Linked DNA regions of Homo sapiens: region 2 is linked to region 1. A link means that fine-mapping ties the variant in region 1 to the expression of a gene that starts in the linked region. Tissue or cell type: sun-exposed skin. Region 1 holds a variant in brackets; the other region holds the start of a gene. All regions are shown on one strand. Distances are from middle to middle.

The links. PIP is the estimated chance that this variant, and not a neighbour inherited with it, causes the effect. A credible set is the group of variants that fine-mapping cannot tell apart.
Region 2: LRIT2 starts here. The variant in region 1 is the best candidate, but not a certain one, in a credible set for the expression of LRIT2 in sun-exposed skin (GTEx, PIP 0.52).

Annotation. Positions count from the first base shown.
Region 1 is chr10:84,287,263-84,294,912 of GRCh38, forward strand. LINC00858 (long intergenic non-protein coding RNA 858) reads left to right here. Exons shown (of 6, transcript NR_038220.1): 2 at 962-1,158; 3 at 1,332-1,518; 4 at 1,713-1,782; 5 at 4,145-4,875; 6 at 5,984-7,397. Among named protein-coding and RNA genes, the nearest start is that of LINC00858, 11 kb to the left of the region's middle. RefSeq lists an enhancer at 7,632-7,650. The variant C/G (reference allele first, on the strand shown) is at 3,688.
Region 2 is chr10:84,221,871-84,229,520 of GRCh38, forward strand. LRIT2 (leucine rich repeat, Ig-like and transmembrane domains 2) reads right to left here and starts at 3,674. Exons shown (of 3, transcript NM_001017924.5): 1 at 3,541-3,674; 2 at 2,463-3,244; 3 at 1-810. The coding sequence starts at 3,650. The coding sequence ends at 50.

The DNA.
Region 1 (7,650 bases):
GCTGGGACTACAGGCATGCACCACCACATTCAGCTAATTTTTGCATTTTTAGTACAGACAGGGTTTGTTTCACCATGTTGGCCAGGCTGGTCTCGAACTCCTGACTTCAAGTGATTCGCCCACCTCAGCCTCCCAAAGTGCTGGGATTACAGACATGAGCCATTGCGCCCTGCCTGGATCTCTGTATTATTTCTTACAGCTGCATGTGAATCTATAATTGTTTTTCCACACATAAATTAATACAATTATATATTTTGTTTCATATAAAAATATAAGTTGACTGGAAAGTGTAGTAGGAGAAGCTCGGGACAGTAGCCATGACCATTTGAGATAAGTGATTATAGTCCTGTTGTTTAAGTTCCTCTAGCACTTCTTGGCTGCTCAGGTAAGGCCTTGAGAGGAAATTATGTGGGGTCATCCAGAGGTGGGGTTTCGTTGATGACCATGAGAAAAGAAAAAAAGAAAAATAAGGTTTAGGGCCATTAAAGTGACAGTGTTGAGAATCTAGTCTGACTGAGGAGGATAATGAAGAGAAAGAGGTGATGCTTTGGATGAAAGCAAGAGTCAACAGACTAGAAATCCTAATGAAGTAAAAACACAGAGTGGGGTAAGTGAGCATGCAAGCTGGTTGGAAAGGAGCAGTCAGGGAGAATGAAATTTTAATTAGACTATGAAGATGGACCATCTTGGAGGGGACATAAGGTCAAGGATGACTATGCAAGTCATGGGTGAGGTGGAGTGGACAAGGAGTTCACTGGTAATAAGGAGGTCAAGGAAACAAGAGTCGCAGATATTGGATGCTGAAGTCATCAGATTTATGGACAGCTGATAGAGCGAAGAGCAGGACCTTGCACCAGGAACCTAATGCTTTAGCCTGTGAAGTGATGTGGTGGCTTAGTAACATGTCAGCTTGGCTAGGTGGAAGCAGATTTCCTAGAATCCCTTTCCTGTTTGTTTTCAGTTAGGCTTGGCCACAAGAGACAAATTGCAAGGCATGGAGACATTTTTCTAACACTTGAAAATTCTATGCAAGAGCACCAGGCAGCTCAGTCACCTTGTCACTTATCTACTGGGTCACCTTGTTGGCATGGGATGCCAGCCAGGCTTGCAGCTGCTCCATCCTCCCCTGAATTTGTACTTCAGCTTCTCCACTCATGGGTAAGTTATGTGTTTATCTGCTTTTCTTACAAGACACCGTATATTTAAAATTGGAGGCAGTGCAATACTAACATGGGTTCCAGTCCTTCTGTGTTCATTTCAGCTCATGCTTGTCATCTCCAGCTTGTCCTTGCTCTCTACCACTTTGCAATCATCTTCCCTTCCCTTCCCAGCCTGCCCTGAGGACTTCATGGTTCAGCATCAGATATGAAGACGACAGCCCTATAGAGACTATTTAACCAGCTTCTAAGGTGGTTAAATATCTTACCAGCCTATGTAAGGCCGAATCCTACTAACAAAGCACTGGTATATGTAATATCCCAGTGGTTTGCTTCTCTAATTGAACCCTGACTACTACAGGTAAGAATTTTGACAAGAATATATTAATTCTTCTAGGATGAAGAAAGGGAAACTCACTTCAGGTCAATAGAGATTGTCATTTGGGACCCCTTCAAGACAACCAATTATATGACTGTCTCTAAAATATTGCTATCCAGCCCCCATTCCTCACTTTTGTCCTACTGGTAATAAGACATTCATCGTGTATCTTTCAGAAGTCCAGATACCACAGTCTGAGTAGTTCTTTAATCTGCTTATCTGGTGATTCCATCACAAATGGTTCAGGTAAGTCTGGCATGCCTTGGGCTTGGTGTGATTTTCTACACAAAACACAGATTATAGGTGGACCTGACAATTAATCTAATTAATAAGAAATGCTACATTCAAAGCATTTTATCCCAGACTCAGCTATCTCAGTTATAAGAAACATATGTTTTCTATTTGAGAACCCTTGGATTTATGCACATTCAATTTGGAGGTTAGAAGGAATAAGGATGAGAGTTCGTAGTGTCTGCTTTATCCAAGCCTTTTTACAAGGTGAAGATGTGTTAACTAGTTACTATTTTGAGCTCTTCATACTAAAGTTTTGAGTGAAAAACACAATCTGCTAAGTCAAGGCAACAATATTTTTCTTTTTTTGAACTTACTGCACCATTTAAATTATGAAGAAATCAAATGTTAATAATCATAAACACTTTGTGTTGTAAAACGGCTTTCCCCTCTCTTTCCTTCACTGTACACTGTACTAAAATGTTTCAGATACTTCCAGAGACAACTGCCTTTAGAGGAGTCATACACATTCTCCTTCAGCCTGGACACTAACTCAGTAAGCAGCAGCTTCAGAATAATGCACCTGTGATCAGGCCAATTGGGATAGAGGCATCATCTGCCCTTATCTTCTCAGAGCCAAAGAAACTAACTTAATTTTCCGTATCAGCTTCATTTTCCCCTTTACTCAATGCCCAGAGATTAATTCTTGGTTTCAGCCCCACCCCATGAAAAGGATGTCTATTCAATCAGAGAGACACAAAGATGGCTTGTGCAAACCAAGCAAAAAAGACACAAGAGGAATTTATTCTGGTTAATAAGCTGAGAGCAAACATGTAGAGGCTAATTGTATGGTGAGTACAAGAAGAGTTTCTTATCTGGGGAGTGTATAATGTTGGGGTAGACACTGTCATTTGTTTTCTTATCCAATAGCCATCATTCTTCATTGCTTAGAAAAAAAAACTTTGTGCTACAGCTGTCAGGCAAGTGGCATGGGATTTAGGAGAAAATTATTTGCTGTCAGCCCTGAAGGATGAAGGAATCACAATTTCTCTGTACAATCATGGTAGTCAGCTTTCAAGATTCCTCCAATGATTCTCATCTCCTGCTATTCATGCCCTTGTGTAGTTATCTCTTGCACAGAATAGGGCTGATGTGTGACCAGTAGGATATTATGGAAATGGCAGAATTTGATGTTCATAAAAGATGTTGCAGCTTTTACCTCGCTCTCTCAGATTATTCACCCTGGAGAAGGCTGTTGTTTATCTTTTCACATTGTGAAAACATTCAAGTGGCCCTCTGTGAAGTCCATGTGATTGGGACTTGAGGCTTCCTGACAATAGCCACCACGAATTTGCCGACCATGTGAGTGGCACAACTTTGTTCAGGTGACTGGAGGCCCAGCTGGCATTTTGCCTGCTATTTCATAAGAGACTCCAAGCCAGAACCATCCAACAGAGCCAACTAAGTCTCTTCCAAATTCCTGGCCCAAAGAAACTCTGAGAGATAATACATATTTATTGTTATTTAAGCCACTGAATTTCAGAGTAATTTGTTATGCAGAAATAAATAACACCAATTGTGTTGAATCCCATTTCTCTCTCATGGTATATATGTAGTCAGAAAACCATAGACTAAAATCCACAGGCATATATGATAGTCCTTGACATTACCCATGTCTTAGTTTAATAATCCTGGCTAGTTAAGTACTGCTAATCCATATCTCCAGAAAAATTTAGAAAGCCCTGATTTGCAGTGTTTACCTAGTTGTGTGGTGCAAATATTCCCACTGGTTGACATCATGCTACCAACACAGAGTTGGGAAGAAATGCACACAATTGGTTCTTGCAAGCTCATATGAGCCCCAACGCACCACTGAATTGAGCTCAGAAGAAATAGATTGGGTCAAGTAATCATACTGAC[C/G]TCTGCCTGTTTGGCCAGAAGGATCTTCAGAGGTAGTGTAATGTTTTGACAATAGCTTTAGGACCAAATGACCAGGAACATAATTTTGCCTATGCTGTTTTCTGGCTGAGTGACCTCAATAGGTACTGCTTATTGGCAATAAGTGTCAGATTCTTCATCTGTAAAATGAGGATGGCAATTTCTGCTCATCAGAGATTTGAGAGAATTAAGTGAAAATAACAATAGCAAAAACAACAGTTATAAGTACTTACTATATATCAGGCCAGAGTTGCTTATAAGATATCATTACTTAATTTAATAATACAGGCAAAGCAGTAGGGACTAAATGAATGCTAACTATCAGCATTGTTATTACATTTCTGAGCAGGGAGCTGTTCATTAGAATGAACACTGAATCAGAAATTGTTGGAACTGACCTGTCTCCTATTTTCCAACCTCAATTCTTCGTCTTCCTAAGTTGGGCAAAAGGCTCCAGTGAAGAGCTGTGAGGCTTATGTATGGGGACTCACCAGGGGCCAGCCCAGGCTGCCCACAAGACCATGAGCCACCCTGTGACTGAATGAAGTGGAGAGAAGGGAAAGTAGTTAAGAAATCAAGAAAAGTGTCTTTCAGCACCATGGCCAGAAGTTGTGCCACAGAATTGGAACAGGGAAACCCAGAGAGCCAGTGCTGTCCTAGTCCTAGTGCTGAATGATCCCATTGGTGTCCTTAGAAGGGCTCTGACTTCAGCCCACCAGCAGCATGTGGACTTATAAGCTTTCTAGCAGAGTTGGAGATCCCCAGGAAAAAGAAATCTCTTAAAATGAAATGAAACTTCAATCAACCAAGGCTTTCTAGCCTGATGTGAGTTGTCTTTACACACATATACCTTTTTAACAAAGAAGAAGAAAAGAATGGACATTGATAGAACTTGCATTCTGTGTTCATCACCAGGATAGTTGCTTTATAAATATCATTTTGTTTTTAGTCACAACCCAATGCAGCATTTTCCTTACTGACAAAGAACCTGAGGCATGGAGAATTTAAGCAACTCCCTGAAGGCCACCCAGCTAATCAGCAGTGGGAAAAGAATTTAATTCTAGATCTTTCATTCTAAAGCCCAGCTCCTTACACACGTTGGATGCTACTATTTCCAAAATGTCAACAACACTTTGGACTATCAACCTGTCTAAAGAGTATTTGAAGCAGGTAATACAAATTGTTTTCTAATTTATTATGGTCAGTTCTCTTCTTTGAATCCAGGTGATGCTGATGTCTTCATACCTCCTCTTCACCCTTCAGAAGAGGTCCTCTTGCTTCTAGAAAGAGAATACAAATAGCTACATTCCTACTCAGTGGGAGAAAGTGAGACTGTTCCAGAAGATGAGGACTTAGGCTGGTAATGTCCTGAGGAAATGACTATGCCAACCTAGAGATCCCCTTGTGTGTGGTAAGGTCCCCAATGAACAGAATGGGGCCCTCACCTAACCACATCTCAGGCCTGGCTTCAAGATGGGTTTCAAACCAGAAAGTAATCATATCGGATGATTACTACATACTACATACATTGCCATCCTCATTTTATAGATGAAGAATCTGACTCTTATTGCCAATAAGCAGTGCATGTTGAGGTCACTCAGCCAGGAAATAGCAGAGGCAAATTTAGGCTCCTGGTCATTTGGTCCTAAAGCTACTGTCAGTAATCTCAGTATGCCTGAGATGTGGTCAGGTCAGCATACTTTAGAATGAACTTTTATGCTAAGATAATAACATGGTGGTTAAGTATTGACTCAGATTGCCTACATTTGCATTAAGTTTTCACTGTGCTAAACTTAAGTTTTCAGCTGTGTTATTTGGGGGCACTAACTCCATAAGCCTCAGGTTTTTTTTTTCTGTTTTTGTTTTTGTTTTGAGATGGCGTCTCGCTCTGTTGCCCAGGCTGGAGTGCAGTGGTGCAATCTCAGCTCACTGCAACTTCTGCCTCCCAGGTTCAAGCAATTCCCTGCCTCAGCCTCCCGAGTAGCTGGGATTACAGGCGCCTGCCACCATGCCTGGCTAATTTTTGTATTTTTAGTAGAGAGGGGGTTTCACTATGTTGGCCAGGCTGGTCTTGAACTCCTGACCTCATGATACACCTGCCTCGGCCTCCTAAAGTGCTGGGATTACAGGGGTGAGCCACTGTGCCCGGTGGGTTTTGTAGCTTTAAAATGGGAACTATAAGGTTGTTTACATGCAATTATGTATGTCATGTGCTTTCCCTAAGGAAATTATTCAACAAACTTTAGGTAGTTTTATTATTATTATTATTTCTGTGCAGTGATGCAGGCCTCTGAAGGAAAAGGTGCACATTTTCAACAATAAAAGAGAGACATTCCTTTAGTGTATCTCCACATTCCCTGAAGGGGAGCTGGAATGACATGACGGACTTGGCCTCAGGGCCCCAAGCCTTCCCTGTTGCAGTCTTCATGACACTCCTCAGAAGCAGCAACTCCAGCCATGTCTGGAACCATTCCTTACCAGACAGGAGGATATCATGGCCTCAACTCATGATCTGTACCAAGCCAAACCTCTTTTGGGGTACCCACCAAGCCTCAGGCCTCACCTTCTCTGCCCTGTTGTCCCTGCCCATCTGTCCTGGTTTTCTACTAGTTTCCACTACTGGACACTTGTCTGAGGCTGGGTCCCCACCTGGATCTTGTGGCCTCTTGCCCAGGGCTTGGAGGGAAGCTGCTCCCACACTTGAAGATGACAGCTGAGCATGGTCCTTTGTGGGCGTGCTGTCAGGAAGATGACAGTGCAATCTGTTTAATGTGCCAGTTGTCTCTGTGAGTCCCTCATCCGGATGAGCACTTGTCACACCCCTGCAGAGCCCCAGCTGGTTCTTAGAGAGGTGCTCCAGCTCTGTGATTACCTAATCTGGCTTCCCAATCTATCCCACAATGTGTCATTGCTGAGGTCCCTGTGGGTCTTGCAGATAAACTTGCTACAGTCATCCTACACAAAAAAGAAGCTCGTTATCATGAAACCGGCCTGCTTTTTAGCTCCTGGGCCCTAACTCACCCCAGATTGCTGCCAGCTCTTTTGTTTTCCCACTTAGACCAAAGGGATTGAGAAGCTTTCCCATTCCTTGGAGCTGCCACCCTCCATTCTAAGGCAGTCTCCCCCTTCACCCTGCTTGCTGCACCCCAGATGCTGCAAGGCCCATGTGCTGTTTTTGACTTCAGTACTTCAGATTGCTGTGGGAACACAGGAGGCAGCAGCCAGATGAGAAATTGAGTCTGACTCTGGAGTATTATAAAGTCCTTATAGTTACTGGCATTAGGTATAGGGTCTGTATTATTAAAGAGAAATTATTCACCAAACACTTGTTAAAAATGGCAAGACAGTTTATTTAAGAGCATTGCAATAGGTAAGTGCTATGGTCTCAATGTTTGTGTCTCCCTCAAATTCATAAGTTGAAACTTCACTTCCAAGATGAAGGAATTAGGAGGTGGGCACTTTAAGGGATGATTATGTCATAGGCCAGAGCCCTCATGAACGAGATCAGTGCCCTTCTAAAAGAGGCATTGGGAGAGACCCCTCACCTTTTCCATCATATGAGGACACAGCCAGGAAGCATCATCCACGAACCAGAAAATTGGCCCTTACCAGACACTGAATCTGCTGATGTCCTGACCATGGACTTCTGAGCCTTCTGAACTGTGAGAGATAAATTTCTGTTGTTTATAAGCCTTCTGGTTGATGATATTTTGTTATAGCAGCCCAAACAGAAGGGGACAGGGAGAGAGATGGAACTCAACTTCAAATACAAACAGGGACAAGTGGGGCTTTAGAGCCAGTGGGCCCAGTGAGGCAGAGGACAGAGAATTACTATGGGGAACTTGGGATAGGGGAGAGAGACCTGATTAGATATCAAGGGCAGGGGGGATTCCCAATAAACTGCCTCAGCAGAATTTTTGCTAAAACTGGGCTCAGCAGGCCATG
Region 2 (7,650 bases), 65 kb before region 1:
TTTCAGAGGCTTGAAGCCCAAGCCGTTTCCACCCCATGGCCTGGGTTGTTCAGCTGTTGTCTTCCGTTCCTCCTTTCTCCTTGTCCCCCTCAGTGTCTATGTGCCCTTCACCGTCATCACAGACAGCTGGATGTTCTCTAAAGGAGCCATCCTTGGACTGCGGGGCTGCAGGGGTGCAGCTGGGGGCTTTCCTGCGATGAAGACAGCCGCGCAGGACCCACTTGCTGCAGCTGCAGGGGCCCTGGGCTGCCCAGGCATAGGCGCCCACAGGCACTGCAAGCAGCACCACACACAGGACCACTGTGACATGCAGGAGGTGCTCACGTGCCTCTAGCCCACCAGCATCTCTGCCTGTTACAAAAGCTACACACTGGCCCTGGTGTGGAGGCTGGCCCTCTAGGCTGAGGCAGGCCTCATATTTTGTGCCAGGAAGGAGGTCATCCACAGCATAAGTATTGATTCCGGGGCCAATGTGAACCACCTCCTTCCTGAAGGCTTCATCCGATGCAATGTAGAGGGTGAACCACTCCTCCTTAGAGGTGTCAGCCACTGCAAGCCACTCCAGCAAAATCCCATGCACTGTCTGCTTGACAACCCGCAGGTCAATGTAGGCATTGCCCTCCGAGGGGATGGAAAGAGAATCAGGTGCATGTAGGGCCTGGGCAGGCTGGACATGGAGAGAGATTACAAGGTTGCTCTTGCCAATGGAGTTGGAGGCCATGCAGGTGTAATTACCACTGTCTACCAGGTGGGCAGCAGGTATGGCCAGCTCTGACAGAGCAGTGTCTTCTCCAGTAGAAGATGTCAACACTGGGTGGAAAGAAAAACAAAACAGCTGTGCATTTATCTGATAGACTGCTGGAAAGTGTCTAGCAATGCCAGTTTTGTTTTGTTTTGCTTTGTTTTTTGTTATTGTTGTTGTTAGAAGATGGTGGTAACCTCTTATGAACCTCGTACCTGGTGTCAGGTGTTTGCCTCCCAGCAATCCTGTAAGATAAATAACTGATCTTTACACATAGGATATTGAGGATTGGAGCAATCCATCAACTTGCCCGTAGTGAGAGTTGTTCAGAAGCAACAATTGATATGGGACCTGGCTCTTCAATCTATGAAGACCATACTCTTTCAACTTCACTAACTGCACCCACCAAACCACCTTCGCCTTGCTGAGCCATGGCTTTCAGGAGAGTTCTTGCAACTATGTGATTGTACGATATTATGAGCTTCAGGAAGTGCCTTCTTACCTTCCAGATGCACAGTTCCTCAGAGCCTGGAGCCACATGCCTGGGCTGCTATCCCTAATGGAGCTCCTATCCAGTGTGGTACTGGGCAAGTTGCTTAAATTCTCTTGACAATTTTCTTGTCAATAAAATGGGATGATAAGCAATCACCTACCTCATTAGTTTGAAAGTAAGTGTTCAATGCTTATATTTTTACTGAGAGATTATATAACACGTTGCCAAACAGTGATTATAGAACACCACGAAAGACAACACCTGTATGCATTTCTTGGTTTTCAAAGAGGCTACAACAATAAATCCTATAATTTTCTTTCATTGATATTGAATGCCAAACCAATAAGGTATTATCAAAACAATACAGAATGTGAAAATTCAGTTAATTGGGTATTTTTAAACCATCCAGAGTTTTGTCATAATGTATAACAAATACCTGGGCAAATGACTATATTTCCCAAGTTTTACCCAGCTATTCCTAGTTGTCTTCTAGACAGAGAACAGAAGACAGGACACGAGGAATGTACGAAGATTTTTCTTTTCAGCTTTGGGATACCCCCAGGGAGGCCATCCCCGGCTTTGTGATATGCCCAACCCTACAGAGTAGCATTAAAGGTAATCCCAGCTGAGGTATGAAAACAGAGCAGAGGGTTCCAGGAAGGAAGAGGCAGGTTTGAATTCCAGCCCCAGGGCCCACAGAGGTCACTTCCTTTCCCTGGGTCCCAGTATTACAAATTCAAGCCAATAAGGTCTGAACAATTTTATGTCAGTGTTATTTCAAACAAGCACCCCAGGTGATTCTGCTCAGGCAAGTTAAGGAAATAACTAATAGATCATCTCTAAAATCAATCCTAGTAAAAAATTCTAGAATTCTAAAATACATAGTCCAGTGTTTTGCATCTAGAAGATTCCCAAAGACTATATCTGCTCATATAAAATTTTATAATATTTGCATAAGATATTAAATTAGCCCTGAAATATGTGTTTATATATGTGTATATGTTCTGTATGCAAAGAGATCTGTATGCAAACATTTAAAATAATGCCAATAGTGGAACACTACCTTGAAATCTTTTCTGTTCTAGTGAGCATAATTCAGGGCTATCCCAATCTTACTTGCACCCACCCTTCGTGACTGACCCAGCTTTGAATCTCTCTAATGAGGATGGGTTTGCTACAGACCTCTCCATTCCCTCCAGATACACTGAGAGGGTGCATGTGGCTTACCATCAAATTCTCTCCACATACTCAGGGGATAAGTCCATGCAATGGATGGTGAGGGGCTGGCCTGTGCCAAGCATCGCAGGGTCACATTCTGTCCTGCCCGGATGGTGATATTGGCACTGGGGGTTGAGATCTGTGGCTTCATGCAAGCACTAAGCTCAGTTTCATGAAAAAGCTGCCCTGCCTTGGACAGAGGGCCCTGACATATCAGGTAGGAATTCACCAGGATGACTGGGAGGGTAATGGACTTGACAAACTGGACAAGCCCCCTTAGGCGACAGTCACATACCCAGGGGTTGTCATGCAGGGCCACCACCAGGCTGGAGAGAATCTCAGCCCCACAGTCAGGCTGCCGGCATTTCTGGTAGGCTGGCCAGTTCAGGAAGACACTCTTGGATACAACTGTAAGCCTATTGGAGGATAGGTCAAGGTAGGTCAGGCTGACCAAGAATTGAAGAGCCAGCTCAGGGAGTGCATCAATCTTGTTGCGTTTGAGATCCAAGACCCTCAGGAGAGGGGTGGCACGGAACGCTGTCCATGGTACTGAGCAGAGCTTGTTCCCCTCCAGTCTCAGCTCCCTCAGTTCTGGCAGGTGTTCCAGGGCTCCTAGGTGGATCACACTGATATTGTTAAAATTGAGCCAGAGGTATTCCAAGGTGCTCATGTTGATGAAAGACCCTTGGGGCATCTCAAATAAGGGTGAATTTTCAATTCTCACTTGCTTGAACTCTTCAGAAAGGTTCCCAGGGATCTTTCCCAAGGAGACAGATGTGCACTGCAGAGTCCTGTACAAGAAACCAGAACAGCTTTAAGATAAACAACAGGGGACTGAAAAGTGGGGTCAGGCTGATCCTGGCATTAGACATGTGAATCAGAATAAAAATATTATTATTCATTGAAATAAAAGAGTTAGACTCATTTTGGTAAAAATGCACAGTTCAGCAAAGTTCAGTCCCAACTAGAATGAGTCTCATAGAGTTTTGCTGATTTCCTGCCAATTCTAAGCCTGCTTCCACTCCACATCATCCCCAAAGAAAACCCATTCCCCATAACCCTCTAACATCTGGCCAGCAGAGCGCACCTGCCAAAACTCTCCTCTGAGCAAGTGCATCCTGGCAGACAGAAAGGCTGAGCTGCGTGTGTATCCAGAAAGACCAGAACTAACAGGAAGTAATGAAAAACTGAAGCCATATTTCTCTGTAAGAAAATACGTTGTGAGTTTTGAATAAGTATCGCCCCAGCTTCCGAGTGGCAAATCCTATTATTGGTAATCCATGATGATGTAAGTCACACAGCAGCAGGAAAGCCCATGGGAGCTCTGAGGTCTGTTACAGCCCAGACCACAAGTTCAGTCAGAACACACGAAGGGGGATCAATGTCTCTTAACTAGGGTCAGGAAATTCAACATTTGTGTAATTCTTGAGTCTGAAAAGCAAACTCCAAGTCAGATGTCCAATTCCATACAGATTCTACATTTCTTAGAGTCTTAAACAGAAGTCTGAGAAACAAGCAGGCAGTGCTATTCTGAGCACCACTGTTCAGGGGATGTGGCCAGAATCCATCTAATGCTTCATCATTTGCAGTTGATTCCTGAAACCTAGAATTTCCAATCATTTTCTCAAAGTGAAAATAGGTGATGAGTAACAAAGTAATTCTGTGTTCATTCCTATCATTTGTTCTCTTCCCAACACCACGGGTGGTGTAGTCATGCTCCTACTGCATCAAGACAGCTGCTTCTGCAGCTTGGGTCACCAGTTTCAAATACAAGATGGTATTTTCTGATTAAACCAAAAGATTGTTTTCTTGGACTTCACAACCTTTCCTTAATACTGTGCATTTCACTTCATCAAAATGGGCAACCTACATTTTAAAAAGAGATGTATACAATTTTATATGCTTGCTCTTTCACTCTTCATTTATTCCACAAATATTTACTGGTCATTTGCTTTAAGCTATACTCTTGCCCAATGAAAGGAACAGGGTCAAGGGCAAACCTATTATAGACCCTGTCCCAAGGAGTCTTCTCTCTTGTTTGTGCTTCTGAATCTTGAGATCTTTGGAATGTAATTTAATCTCTGTGAGTCTTTTCTGTATCATGAGAATATTAACAAATACCTCATAGTGTTTCCAGGAATTTATTTCTCATTATTTTTTAATTTTTGTATTTTTTCAGAGACAGGGTCTCACTCTGTTGCCCAGGCTGGTCTCAAACTTCTCAGCCTCCCAAGTAACTGGGATTACAGGTGCAAGCCATTGCATCCAGCCATATTTTTAGAAAAGTTTGAGATTATGTTAAATACAACACCTAGCACACAGTTGGTGCCCATTAATCCTCCTCCCACTGACAAACTCTTTAAGATCCGAAAAGTCTACATCTCTATTAACTAGGGCACTTCCAGTTGAATATTGAAATTCCATGAGTTCCTTTAAGACTCATGATATACATTGTACCCTACAAAAGGCCTCAGGAAAGAAAATCCGCTTAGCTAACCAGTGAGGGGGGAAATGGGTCACCAGCTAAGCTGATTACACTCCAGGCTTTCCATCCAAGCCAGAAATATTTGCAGGAGTTTCCAAACAGTCTAACTCTAAAACCTGGGGGGACCACTGTGTTTGTCTAAAGGTAAAAATCCAAAACAAAGAGAGAGCTATCGGCACAAAGTTTGTCATACATATGGCTATGTGCTTCCTAGATCCCCCTTCAAGGTATAAGTGGATGCTCAGCTGCAAGGAGTGCTTGCATGAGGTCACGTCCTTCCCAAAGCAGCCACATCCCACATTCAGTGACTGAGGGTGGTGAGGGCCTGGCCAGTTTGCCCTGATGGGGGAAAACTCTGATGAGCAATTATCACTCCAGAGTCCCCTACCAGCTTTGCTAAGGCTTTGTCAGGCTTGTTTCATGGAAATATGTGATTTAATTCATGACTATTCCAAACCACTAGTGGATTCCTTTCTCTCCCCTTACCCCAAAGGATAAAGATCTTAAGAGTCCTCCATTCCCCCACAATTTCCTCTCTGTCCATCTCATGCCAGCCTTTTCAAATGAATCCAGCTCCATCCAACTTTCAAGAAGTTTGCGGGAAGCTTGTGAAGCACACCCACTGGCATGCTATCTCTAGAATCATCTAGGCCACTTCTCTACTGCCCCCCACTCCTTTCCTGACCCCCTCATTCTCTGGTTTCCTTATTTGGCATATGAACAGAGGGAGTGGCTCTCTTGGAAATTGAGGCAGGAGACCAGGATAATTGAAGTTAGCATGGGTCAAGTTATTTATGTTAAACAACCTGTGGTTCAGTGTAGTCCCTAAACTCAAGAGACCCTAACAACAATGGCAAGAGGGTCTGGAAATATTACAACCCATCTTCCCTCTTGCAGGATGCTTTTCAGAACTAGGGTCTTAAAATTCTCCATAGAGACAGAGTCATGGGGGAGGAATTACTCTGTGTTTGTGAAATGCTTAGATATAAATGGCTGCAGGGAGGCAGCTCCCTGGCTTGTCTTAATAGAATCTTAATAGGAGAGTGTCCTATCTATTCAATTGGAAAATGCCACTCACCTTCCCAATATTAGTAAAACACTGGGCTACCTCAGACAGAGAACAGGGCATCCTATCAGGGAGCAGACACGCTGTACTCCGTTTCTCTGAAGCTAGGACTCTTTCCCACCCCCATCGTCTGCTGCCAGCATGTCTGAGATGCTGCCTCAGCTACCCACGCTCTTAGGTATGCCTGTGGCAGAGACACAAAAGACCTTTCCAAGCCTCCTTGAAATAGGTGGGCTACAAGACTCTTGATCTAGCTAATGAAATGTTACAAGAAATGAGGTTTGAAAAGCCCTAACATGATCTTCCAATTTATCTTTTTCCTTGTTGTGGCAACCACTGACATTCCAAATGGTGGAGTCTTCCCAGCCATGTCCTTGAGTAAATTAGTGAAGCAGAGCCCTCCCTCCTTCTGTATTTCCCAAACTTAAGTAGAGTCTGTGGAACAGGAATACATTTTTCCGTGTTAAGCCATGGAAATTTGGGAATGGTTGCCTAAGCATAAATCTAACCTATCCTAACTACAATGCCCTTGTGAATAAATATGCTCAGGTACTTGTATGTTGATTTTTGCCTTTGTTAGATTATATGATAATTAAGACAAAAATTTCCAGCTCTTGTCCTCTAGACAAACTGCTCACTGAATCCCTCGATTGATAGCCTAGGTTTGATAGCCCACATCCACTTTCCAGAGCACAATTTCTGTATTTGCCTTTTTGTACCCAGCAACTTCAATGGGCAAGTGACCTTGGACATATTCTCTGCTTAATCATGAGGAATAAAACCATGTTGCAGTCATCAAAAGACATCATGAAGATGCTATGATTCCAACCAACCTACAAACCAGGCTTCCAAGGCCAGCTATGCTGCAGCCTCGCCATGGCCCAAATTGGTCTTCAGCATTGGAAGGCCAGAAATTCTTTTGCCAGGATACTCAGAGGGCATTCAATTTTCAGGGACTAACTCATACTCATCAGACTCACATACTAAAAGACTAAGGTAAGCCAGACATCATTTTATTTTTTACAATAAGAATGTGTTTCTTCCCATGACTTGAATATTCATGAGCGTAATCCAGGATGATTCTTCTCTACAAGGGCAAACCAGGGAAGACAGGATACACAAAGGAAGGTTGACAGATGAGTTTTGGGAGGCTTATCATCTTGGAGGCTGTATTAGTCCATTTTCACACTGCTGGTAAACACATACCCAAGACTGGGTAATTTATAAAGAAAAAGAGGTTTAGTGGACTCACAGTTCCACATGGCTGGGCAGACCTCACAATCATGGCAGAAGGCAAGGAGGAGCGAAGGCATGTCTTACATGACATCAGGCAAAAGGATTTGTGCAGGGGTACTTCCATTTATAAAACCATCAAATCTCATGCGACTTATTCATTACCACGAGAACAGTATGGGGGAAACTGCCCCCGTGATTCAATGATCTCCACCTGGCCCCACCCTTGATTCATGGGGGTTATTACAATTCAAGGTGAGATTTGGGTGGGGACACAGTCAAACCATATCAGAGGCCTTTCCATCCAGACCATGAAAATAGGTCCCAATAAACCATTGGATCATTGGCAAGATTGAATTCTCTCTCTCTCTTTCTGTCTCTGTTAACATCAGATAAATACTACAGATTTCTTG